Linked DNA regions of Homo sapiens: region 1 is linked to region 2. Evidence: fine-mapped expression QTL. A gene starts in region 2. The other region holds a variant in brackets. All regions are shown on one strand. Distances are from middle to middle.

Region 1 (5,370 bases), 24 kb before region 2:
GCTGACGGGATCCCGGGCTCCGCGGTCCCTAATATGGCGGCGGTCGCTCCTCCGCTGCCTCCCGGCTCCCTCCCTCCGCCGCGCGCGCCCGGCCGGCCGCGCGCACCCCCGCAACCCGACCACGCCCCCACGCCGCGCGCGGCTAATCGCGGCCACGCCCCCCGCCTACCCCACACACCGCCAGGCCCTGCCCAACACCCAGCCAGGCCCTGCCCACTCCGAGTGGCTGCGCCTGCGCGCGTTGGGCATCTCGGGAGGACGTGACGTCTCCCGCGATTCAAATCAATACAGGAAGCGCGGCTCCACGCGTTGCCCAGGGCAACCGCGGCCGGAAGAGGACCCGCGGGGTGCTAGACGTTGCAGAAATGGCTCTGGTAGATGGAGGGCGTGGTTCCCACTGGGGACAGTCGCGGAATGGGGCGCCCCAGGGCAGACCCTTCCTAGGGTAGATCGAAGCCAGGCACACCTCAGTGCGGCATTGACGTCGCGCCTAATGAGCGCAGATGGGACCCAACACCAGGTGCGTGTCCCGAACGTACAAACGTCACTGCTGAGAGTCATTAATTTATTCAACAAACCTGCATTGCGCTCCTAAGTGCTGCTCCTCCAGGCCCCAGTGAGACAGCAGGGAACAAAACAGGTTTTTAGGCCAGGTGCGGTGGCTCAAGCCTGTAATCCCGGCACTTTGGGAGGCCGAGGCGGGCGGATCACCTGAGGTACGGAGTTAATCCCAGCTACTCGGGAGGTTGAGGCAGAAGAATCCCTTGAACCCAGGAGGCAGAGGTTGCAATGAGCCGAGATTGCGCCACTGCACTTCAGCCAGGGTGACAGAGCAACACTACGTCTTGAAAAAAAAAACAAAAAACAGGTTTTTAAAAAAATTATGGGCCGGGCGCGGTGGCTCACGCCTGTAATCACAGCACTTTGGGAGGTGGAGGTGGGTGGATCACCTGAGGTCAGGAGTTCGAGACCAGCCTGGCCAACATAGTGAAACCCCGTCTCTACTAAAAATACGAAAAATTAGCCAAGCATCGTGGCAGGCGCCTGTAATCCCAGCTACTGGGGAGACTGAGGCAGGAGAATTGCTTGAACCCGGGAGGCAAAGGTTGCAGTGAGCCAAGATCGCACCATTGTACTCCAGCCTAGGCAACAGGGCAAGACTCAGTCTCAAAAAAAAAAAAAAAAAAAAAAAGGTTAAACATAGAATTGCCACATGACACAGCAGTAACACTCCTAGGTATCTACCCAAGAGAAACAAACATGTAACATCCACGCAAAAACTCACACACCTATGTGCATAGCAGCTTTATTCATAACATCCACAAAGTGCACACAACCCAAATGTACATCCACAGATGAAGGGAAAATGCTCCATTCATACAATGACACGGTGTTTTGCAATATGAGGCAATGAGGCTCGGACACAGGCTACAGATTGGATGAACCTCGAAAGCATCATGCCCAGTGAAAGAAGCCAGATACAAAAGACCACATAGTGAGTGATTCCATTGATACGAAATGTCCAGATAAGCAAATCCATAGAGACAGGAAGTGGATTAGTGGTTGCCAAGGGCTGGGAGAGGGGGATCAGGAGTGACTGGAATGGACTTTATTTTGGGGGGTTGATGGATATGTTCTAAAATTGATGTGATGGCCGTGAGCTGTGGCTCACACCTGTAATCCCAGCACTTTGGGAGGCTGAGGCGGGCAGATCACTTGAGGTCAGGAGTTCAAGATCAGCCTGGCCAATCTGGTGAAACCCCATCTCTACTAAAAATACAAAAATGAGCCGGGTGTGCTGGCGCGCACCTGTAGTCCCAGCTACTCGGGAGGCTGAAGCAGGGGAATCACTTGAACCCGGGAAGTGTAGGTTGCAGTGAGCCCAGATCATGCCACCACACTCCACCTTGGGTGTCAAAGCAAGACTCCGTCTCGGAAAAAAAAAAAAAAAATTTATGTGATGATGGCTGCCCGACTCTGAATATACTAAACACCACTGAATTATCACTTTACACAGATGAATTGTACAGTATGTAAACTATATCTCAATACAGCTGTTATTTAAAAAGTTCTTGCCCGGCGCAGTGGCTTGCGCCTATAATCCCAGTGCTTTGGGAGGCCAAGGAGGGCGGATTATGAAGTCAAGAGATCGAGACCATCCTGGTCAACATGGCGAAACCTCATCTCTACTAAAAATACAAAAATTAGCTGAGCGTGGTAGCACGCGCCTGTAATCCCAGCTTCTCGGGAGGCTGAGGCAGGAGAATCCCTTGAACCCGGGAGGCGGTGGTTGAAGTGAACCGAGATTGCACCACTGCACTCCAGAAAAAAAAAAAAAAATCCCCTTTGGAGCTGAGTTAAGGAGAAAAGAGAACAGGGAAAAGGAGGAGGCAAGAGGTTACAGTTTCAGATGCAGTGCTCGGGGATGCTCTTATTGCAAAGATGATGTTTTAATAAAGATCTGAAAGAGGAGCTGGGCGCAGTGACTAACGGCTGTAATCCCGGCACTTTGGTAGGCCGAGGTGGGCAGATTACTTGAGGTCAGGCCTTCAAGACCAGCCTGGCCAACATGGTGAAACCTCATCTCTACTAAAAATACAAAAATTAGCCGGGCATGGTAGCAGGCCCCTGTATTCCCAGCTACTCGGGAGGCTGAGGGAGGAGAATCGTTGGAACCCGGGAGGCAGAGGTTGCGGTGAGCTGAGATCGCGCCACTGCACTCCAGCCTGGGCAACACAGCAAGACTCTGTCTCAGAAGAATAAAATAAAAGGAGAGGAGAGGGAGATTCTAACACAGAAACACAGAGACAGACACACAGGGGTCAAGGCCAGGTGATGACAGTGGCAGAGATTGGAGTGACGAAGCCACAAGCTGAGAAACACCAAGGACTGGCGGCCACCCCCAGAAGCTGGAAGAGGCAGGAAGGATCCTCCCCTGGAGCCTCCAGAGAGGCCACAGATCTGCAGATACCTGGATTCCAGACTTCCGCCCCCCAGGGACTTGCTCAATCCCAGAGGACCCACCGAACAGAAGACGCAGACTTGGTTCTTCTGTGCTATCAGTTTCTCGAAGGTCTACAGAGGCCAGATGCCAAGTTCTCTGACTTACACAGGCCTTGCTTTTGGCTGAGGCTTCGATATCTGCGTCCTGCACCCTGGGATTATCTCCTCCTGGGGAGCATCCTTGGGGCCAGTCACACCTGGCACCCTGCCCTCGTAGCCTTCCTGAGTCAGCACAGCTCCTGGTCCA[C/G]GGGAAGTCCTCCGTAAACAGCCTGAGCCACAAACATGTTGAGATGACGTCCTCGCAAGGCAGCTGAGGGCTGCAGTGATGCCTGTTATCTGCAGTCAGTTTTCCAACACATAGGAAGGCAATACAATAATTTAAAAAAAAAAAGGGGGGGTGGGCCGTGCACGGTGGCTCACGCCTGTAATCCCAGCACTTTGGGAGGCCGAGGCGGGCGGATCACGAGGTCAGGAGATCGAGACCATCCTGGCTAACACGGTGAAACCCCGTCTCTACTAAAAATACAAAAAAATTAGCTGGGCTTGGTGGTGGGCACCTGTCGTCCCAGCTACTTGGGAGGCTGAGGCAGGAGAATGGCGTGAACCCAGGAGGCGGAGCTTGCAGTGAGCTGAGATCGCCCCATTGCACTCCAGCCTGGGTGACAGAGCGAGACTCTGTCTCAAAAAAATAAAAGTGGGGGTGTCAGCTCCATGAGGCCAGACACTGTGTCTGTTTTGTCCTGTGTCCTCTGTGCCCAGGACACTATCCTCTGTGCTCAGGACACTGTCCAGCACACAGTAGTTGCTCAATAAGTATTTGTGAATGTTGTCTTAAAATAGAAGTTGGCCTTCCAAAAGGATTTCTTTGCTATGCACAGCATTTTATGTTTTTTCATTAATTTTTATTTAATTATTTTTTTGAGATGGAGTCTCACTCTGTCACCCAAGCTGGAGTGCAGTGACGCGATCTTGGCTCACTGCAACTTCCGTCTCCTGGGTTCAAGTGATGCTCCTGCCTCAGACTCCTGAGTAGCTGGAATTACAGGCACCCGCCACTAGGCCAAGCTAATTTTAGTATTTTTAGTAGAGATGGGGTTTCAGCATGTTGGCCATGCTGGTCTTGAACTCCTGACCACAAGTGATCCACCTGCCTTGGCCTCCCAAAGTGCTGGAATTACAGGCGTGAGCTACAATGCCCAGCCATGTTTTTTTATTAATTGCTCATTTTTTTTTTTTTTTTGAGATGGGGTCTTGCTCTGTCACCCAGGCTGGAATCCAGTGGTGTGATTACAGCTCACTGGATCCTTGAACTCCTGGACTCAAGCTATCAAGCCACCTGAGTAGCTGGGCCTACAGGCATGAGCCACCAGGCACAGTTGATTTTTTTTTTTTTTTTTTGGAAATGGAGTCTTGCTCTGTTGCCCAGGCTGGAGTGCAGTGACAGGATCTCAACTCACTGTAACCTGTGTCTCCCAGGCTCAAGCGATTCTCCTGCCTCAGCCACCCAAGTAGCTGGGATTACAGGCTGAGCCACTGCGCCCAGCCAAATTAAAAAAAATTTTTTTTCTGTTGAGACGGGGGCTTACCACATTGCCCAGGCTGGTCTTGGAATCTTGGGCTCAATCGATCATCCTCTCACCCCACAGCCTCCCAAAGTGCCAGGATTACAGGTATGAGCCACCACTCCTGGCAGTCACCCACATTTTAAAAATAAGAGATTGCAAGCAGGGCACAGTAGCTCACGCCTGTAATCCCAGCACTTTGGGAGGCCAAGGCAGGTGGATCACCTGAGGTCAGGAGTTTGAGACCAGCCTGGCCAACATAGTGAAACCCTGTCTCTACTAAAAATACAAAAAGTTAGCTGGTGTGGTGTTGCATGCCTGTAATCCCAGCTACTCGGGAAGCTGAAGCCTTTTTGTATTTTTAGTAGAGATGGGGGTTTCACCATGTTGGCCAGGCTGGTCTCGAACTCCTGACCTCAAGTGATAACACCCACCTCGGCCTCCCAAAGTGTTGGGATTACCGGTGTGAGCCACCGTACCCGGCCTCTTTCAGGTCTTTCTTCAGATGTCACCACCTCAGATTCTGGCCACCCTTCCTGAAACTGCACACCCTATACATACACCGCCCTTGGCTACCGAATTTTTTCTCGTTAGCCTTTTTCACCATCTAATAGGTATTGCATTTACTTATCGTGTTATTTTCTGTCTCTATAACAACACTGGGAGGCGTACGAGGGTAAGGGCTGAAGGCTCTCTTGTCCTCAAGGCCATGTACTATTTATTACATACATGAATGAATGAACGACTGCATTTCTTCCTTTTTTTATTCCTCACCTACTTAAGGTTCGAGCTCCCTGAGCCCATT
Region 2 (5,370 bases):
GGACGCTGGCGACTTTCACATACGCAGAGCCTGCCCGGCTCAGCCTCAGCCAAGCCGTCAGCAAACTGTGAATTAGAAACACTAGGGCGATTTAAAACGTTGTAATATTATCGGCCAACCTTACCGAGTGCTTAGCGTGTACCTGCTGCTGTGCAGAGCAGGCTTTTTCTATGCAGTATCTCATTTAATCCTCCGAGGTAGGACTGATCGCCCCCACTTAACAGATGGGGAAACCGAGGCACGCAGTGATGAAGTGGCTTCGCCAAGGTCTCAGAGCACAGAGTGCTTTTCTCAGAAAAAGCCCAGACAACTGACTGACTTTGGAGGGCAGGATCTCCAAGGCGGGTCCTGCCCCCACCCCCTCTGCTGGGCTCCCCTACCTCCAAATCTTCTCCAGCCCCCGCCTCGGCTGCTGGGTTTGCTTGTCTCTGGGGGGTGGTCCTGACTTCCTAATCAGATCGAGAGCTCCCAGACAGCACCAAGGCCTCCTTCTCTTCCAAGCCCTGCACAAGACGGGATACACAGTCAGAGTTTAATAGATGCCTGCCTGGCTGGTTCAAGCAGACCTGTGGCCATCCTGGGGCTGGGATGTGTGAGCCCCATCCTGCTGAGTGGCCGGTCTGCTCAGCGGTCATCCGCAGACCTCCGGAAGAGAGGAAGTGACAGCGACTCAGCAGGCGCTCCATAAACACCTGTGCGATGACGCCGGGCCTTCCTACCACTCGTCTGGGCCATGGCTGCTCCCGTGTCAGCTGGGGCGGGGTCCCCCTTCGCCCGGGCAGGGCCCACTATCTAATCAGCCGAGGGACCAAGGTTGAGGACAGGAGAGCCTGGAGCCTGAGTCATCAACGCTCCCGGGCATCCCCACGTGAGAGCGTCCCGGTTTGCAGGTGGACCACGGGCATGTGGCCTCTGCACACCTTCCCTGTCCCTGTGTGCTCCCATGGCTGCTTGTGGGTCCTCAGGGGCCAAGAGCCTGGGCGAGGCAGGATAAGCTGGGGGCGAGGCAGACCCGGCTTCAAATCCCAGGTCAGACCTGCTGCGTGACCTTGACTTTCCTGGGCACAATGAGACCGGCACCATTTCACGGGGTGTTAAGAAAAGGAAATGCGATCTGTGAAATTGCCGAGCACGGAGCCTCATGTGTACTCTGAGAGCACAAAAGGTGACTCTCAAATTTGCTTTGAGAGACAAGGTCTTGTTCTGTTGCCCAGGCTGGAGTGCGGTGGTGCATGCAGTGGTGCAGTCGTAGCTCGCTGCAGCCTCGAACTCCTGGGCTCAAGCGATCCTCTCACCTCAGTCTCTTTGAGTAGCTGAGACTACAGGTGCAGGCCACCATGCTCAGCTAAGTTTTACATTTTTTATTTTAGAGACGGGAGGAGGTTGGTCTGGAACTCCTGGCCTCAAGCGATTCTCCCGCCTTAGCCTCCCAGAGTGCTGGGATTACAGGCGTGAGACACTGTACCCAGCCTTGGTAACTCTTTGTATTTCTAATTTTTTTTATTTCCTTTGAGACAGGGTCTTCCTCTGTCACCCAGGCTGGAGTGCGGTGGTGCGGCCATAACTGGCTGCAGCCTCAAACTCCTGGGCTCAAGTGATCCTCCCACTTCAGCACACCCTAGTAGCTGGGCCTGCAGGTGCCCGCCGCGCCTGGCTAATTTTTCTATTTTTGTAGAGGTAGGGCTTGACTAAGTTGCCCAGGTTAGGCTCAAGGATCTGCCCGCGTTGGCCTCTCAATGTAGTGGGATTACAGGTGTGAGGCACTGGGTGGGCGCACCCTTCTTAAGATATTCCAGTTGTATTTGTGAGTTCCCCCTGTGTCCAGAGTGGCACGGGGCCTGGGCCGGGACGGGAGGTCGCAGCCATCTCAGCTCAGCCCCTGCAGCAGGGATCACAAAGGGGTGGCCCTGAGGCTGATGGTCCCCAGGGCAGGGTGCAGGGAGGAGGGACTCCCTCAGTTAATTGTTACACAGGTCCAGAGTCTGGCCTCCCGGAGGGAGAGCGATGGGGCAGGAGCTGGCAGGGGAGGGGCAGGATGCCCAATCAGGTGGTGCCAGGGGCGGGCCCCGCTCCCAGGTCTCAGGCATCCCCCGCCCGGGGACCGCCTGTGCCTTATCACGGGGAGGCAGGGCCTCGCCCACACCAAACCTGTGGACGCCGACCCGGGACCGCCGCTGGCTGGCTGCTGGCTCACTCGACCGTCATGGAGACCCTGGGGGCCCTTCTGGTGCTGGAGTTTCTGCTCCTCTCCCCGGTGGAGGCCCAGCAGGGTAGGTGCAGGGGGGCGGGAGGGGGCGTCGCGGGATAGGGGAGTTGGTCAGGTGATCACCATCTCCCAATTTTCCATGGCGAGAAAAAGGAGAGGGGGCAGGAAGAAAAGGAAGAGTGGCTTGGAGGCCCTTCTCAACCCCCGCAGTACCGCCCGGCCTCCCTCTCGCTGGGCTCTGCCCTCCTCTGTAAGGGACCCCCCACCGCCCACCCGAGCCTTTCCCCTCTCCAGCCCTTCTGAGCACACCTGGCTGAACCCCCCGCCTTGAGCTCGGCCCCACTCTGAGCTCGGGCCTCCTTTACAAGCCCCTCCCCATCTGAGTCCCCGCCTCTTTTGTGAACCGCTCCTTCTCACTCCTCCTCCTTTATAAACCCCTCCCCGAGCCCCTCCTCCTCTGTAAGCCCCTCCCCTCTGGGCTCCTCCTTCTTTATAAGCCCCTCCCCCTGAGCCTCTGCCTCCTCTATAAGCCCCTCTCCCTCTGAGCCCCCTAGTTCACAAGCCTCTCCCCATCCGAGCCCCTTCCTCCTTTGTAAGCACCTCCTTCTCACTCTCCCTCCTTTATAAACCCCTCCCCGAGTCCCTCCTCCTCTGTAAGCCCCTCCCCTCTGAGCTCCTCCTTCTTTATAAGCCCCTCCCCCTGAGCCTCTGCCTCCTCTACAAGCCCCTCCCACTCTGAGCCCCCTAGTTCACAAGCCCCTCCCCATCTGAGCCTCTTCCTCCTCTGTAAGCCCCTCCTTCTCACTCATCCTTTATAGACCCCTCCCTGAGCCCCTCGTCTGTTGTAAGCCCCTCCCCTCTGAGCTCCTCCTTCTTTATAAGCCCCTCCTCCTGAGCCTCTGCCGCCTTTATAAGCCCCTCCCACTCTGAGACCCTCTCCCCTTATAAGCACCTCCCCTCTGAGCTCCTCCTTTATAAGCCCCTCCCTCTAAGCCTCTGCCTCCTTTTATAAGCTCCCCCCAACAGCTCCTCTGTTGTAAGCCCCAACCCCCCAGACTCTTCTTTATAAGCCCTCCCCATCTGAGCCACCTCCTCCTTCATAAGCCCCTCCCCTGAGCTTGTTCTCCTTTATAAACCCCACCCCTGAGCCACTCCTTTGTCATAAGCCCCGCCCTTCTGAGGTCCGCCTTTATAAGCCCCTCCCCCTGAGCCTCTGCCTGCATTATAAGCCCCGCCCCTTCTGAGCCCTCCTGATTTGTAAACTCCGTCCCCTCTAAGCCCCCCTTCTTTTATAAGCCCCTCCCCTCTCTGGGCCCCCAGGCTCCCTCCCACTCTGGTAAGGTACCCTCCCCCTCTCTAAACCCTCCCGACCCCCCTACGCCATCCAGGTCTCTGAAGCTCCGTCCCTTTCCAATACCCCCTCTGTCGGAGCACCCCCAGTGACCTTCTCTCTCTCCTTGCTAGGGTGGTGGGGGAAGGGGGTCTTCTGACCTTTTCTTCCTCTGAGTCGAACCTCCCCAACTTCCTGCAGCCACGGAGCATCGCCTGAAGCCGTGGCTGGTGGGCCTGGCTGCGGTAGTCGGCTTCCTGTTCATCGTCTATTTGGTCTTGCTGGCCAACCGCCTCTGGTGTTCCAAGGCCAGGTGGGTGCCCGCCCCCACCCCGCTGCCCCCACAGCCCTGCCCCCACCCCCAGCTTCCCAACCCTCTCTGGTACCCCCATCACCAGCCTCAAAGTCCGAAGGTCTCCCATTTCCCTGCTGCTCCTCCAACCTCTACTCTCAGAGCCCAGATCCCGGGCTTGCACCCGCCCGTCTCCCCAAGACAACGAGCCAGGCAGCCCAGCCCTTCCTTGCGTCCTGGGGTTCATGAGCCCCGGCTGGGAGGTTGGGACAGAGGCTGAGGCTGTCACACCGCTTCCTTCCCTTTACCGCCCCCTTTCTCCTCTCCCGCCCCCTTCCACCTTTCCCTTTATCTCTGCAGGGCTGAGGACGAGGAGGAGACCACGTTCAGAATGGAGTCCAACCTATACCAGGACCAGAGGTACTATGCGTGCGGATGCTGGGGGTCTGTGTGAACCCCTCCTCGGGGTGGGGGAATGGGTGTGCGCAGATGACCTTGCTGTCCTGAATCCTTCAAACACATTCCTGCCCTGGGATCTTCACCTTTCCTGTATCTTCTGGCAGCTCCTTCTCCTCCTCCAGTCCCTAGTCAGGGGTTTCCAGCCTGGCCACCAGCCTTCCTGACACTGTCCCCAGCCCCAAGTCTGATTCATGCTTATCACCAGTGGAGCTGTCTTAGTTGTTCACTAATTTTGAGACATTACGTGGTGCCTTCCAGTTGTGTAGGCAACTTAGCTTTTGTCCTGGCTGTGTCCTCATACCCAGCATTGGGCCTGGAACACAGGAGGTGCTTAATAAATACCTGTTGAAGAAGACTGTGGTGTAGGATTGTGTAGGTGTCTGTACAAGGCCTAGGTATGGGCGACCCACCTGGACTCAGTGCCTCCTATGGCTCTGACTGCCTCCCAACCTGAGGATTCCCACAGAGGACTCAGGGATGCAGACCTCCATCTTCCATCCACCCATCACCCACTCATCCACCCACTCACCCATTCATCCACTCACCCATTCACCCACTCACCCACCATCCATCCATCCATCATCCACTCATCCACCCACTCACCCATTCACCCACTCACCCATCCACCCACTCACCCATTCACCCACTCACCCATCCATCCATCACCCACCATCCATCCATCACCCACCATCCATCCATCCATCACCCACCCATCCACCCACTCACCCATCCACCCACTCACCCATTCACCCACTCACCTATCCACCCACTCACCCATCCACCCACTCACCCATCCATCACCCATTCACCCACTCACCCATCCACCCACTCACCCATCTACCCACTCACCCATCCATCCATCACCCACCATCCATCCATCCATCATCCATCCATCCATCATCCATTCATCACCCATCTGTTCACTCACCCAGCTGCCCACCCACCCATCTATTCACCTACCACTTATCCACCCACTCACCCATCCATTCATCACCCCCCATCCATTCATCACCCATCCACCCATCACCTACCCATCCACCCACCCACCATCCATCCACCCACCATCTGTCTATCATCCATCCA

What was found.
Region 1: its variant is fine-mapped to the expression of SMIM24 in whole blood (TOPMed, PIP above 0.99).

Annotation. Positions count from the first base shown.
Region 1 is chr19:3,500,997-3,506,366 of GRCh38, reverse strand. LOC105372245 (a long non-coding RNA gene) reads right to left here. Exons shown (of 4, transcript XR_936262.3): 4 at 5,316-5,370. It overlaps FZR1 (fizzy and cell division cycle 20 related 1), which reads right to left and starts at 56. Exons shown (of 14, transcript NM_016263.4): 1 at 1-56. RefSeq lists a silencer at 1 and enhancers at 322-581, 632-681. The variant C/G (reference allele first, on the strand shown) is at 3,251.
Region 2 is chr19:3,477,297-3,482,666 of GRCh38, reverse strand. It overlaps SMIM24 (small integral membrane protein 24), which reads left to right and starts at 2,142. Exons shown (of 4, transcript NM_001136503.2): 1 at 2,142-2,270; 2 at 3,738-3,849; 3 at 4,189-4,248. The coding sequence starts at 2,204. It overlaps SMIM44 (small integral membrane protein 44), which reads left to right. Exons shown (of 2, transcript NM_001395954.1): 2 at 1-557.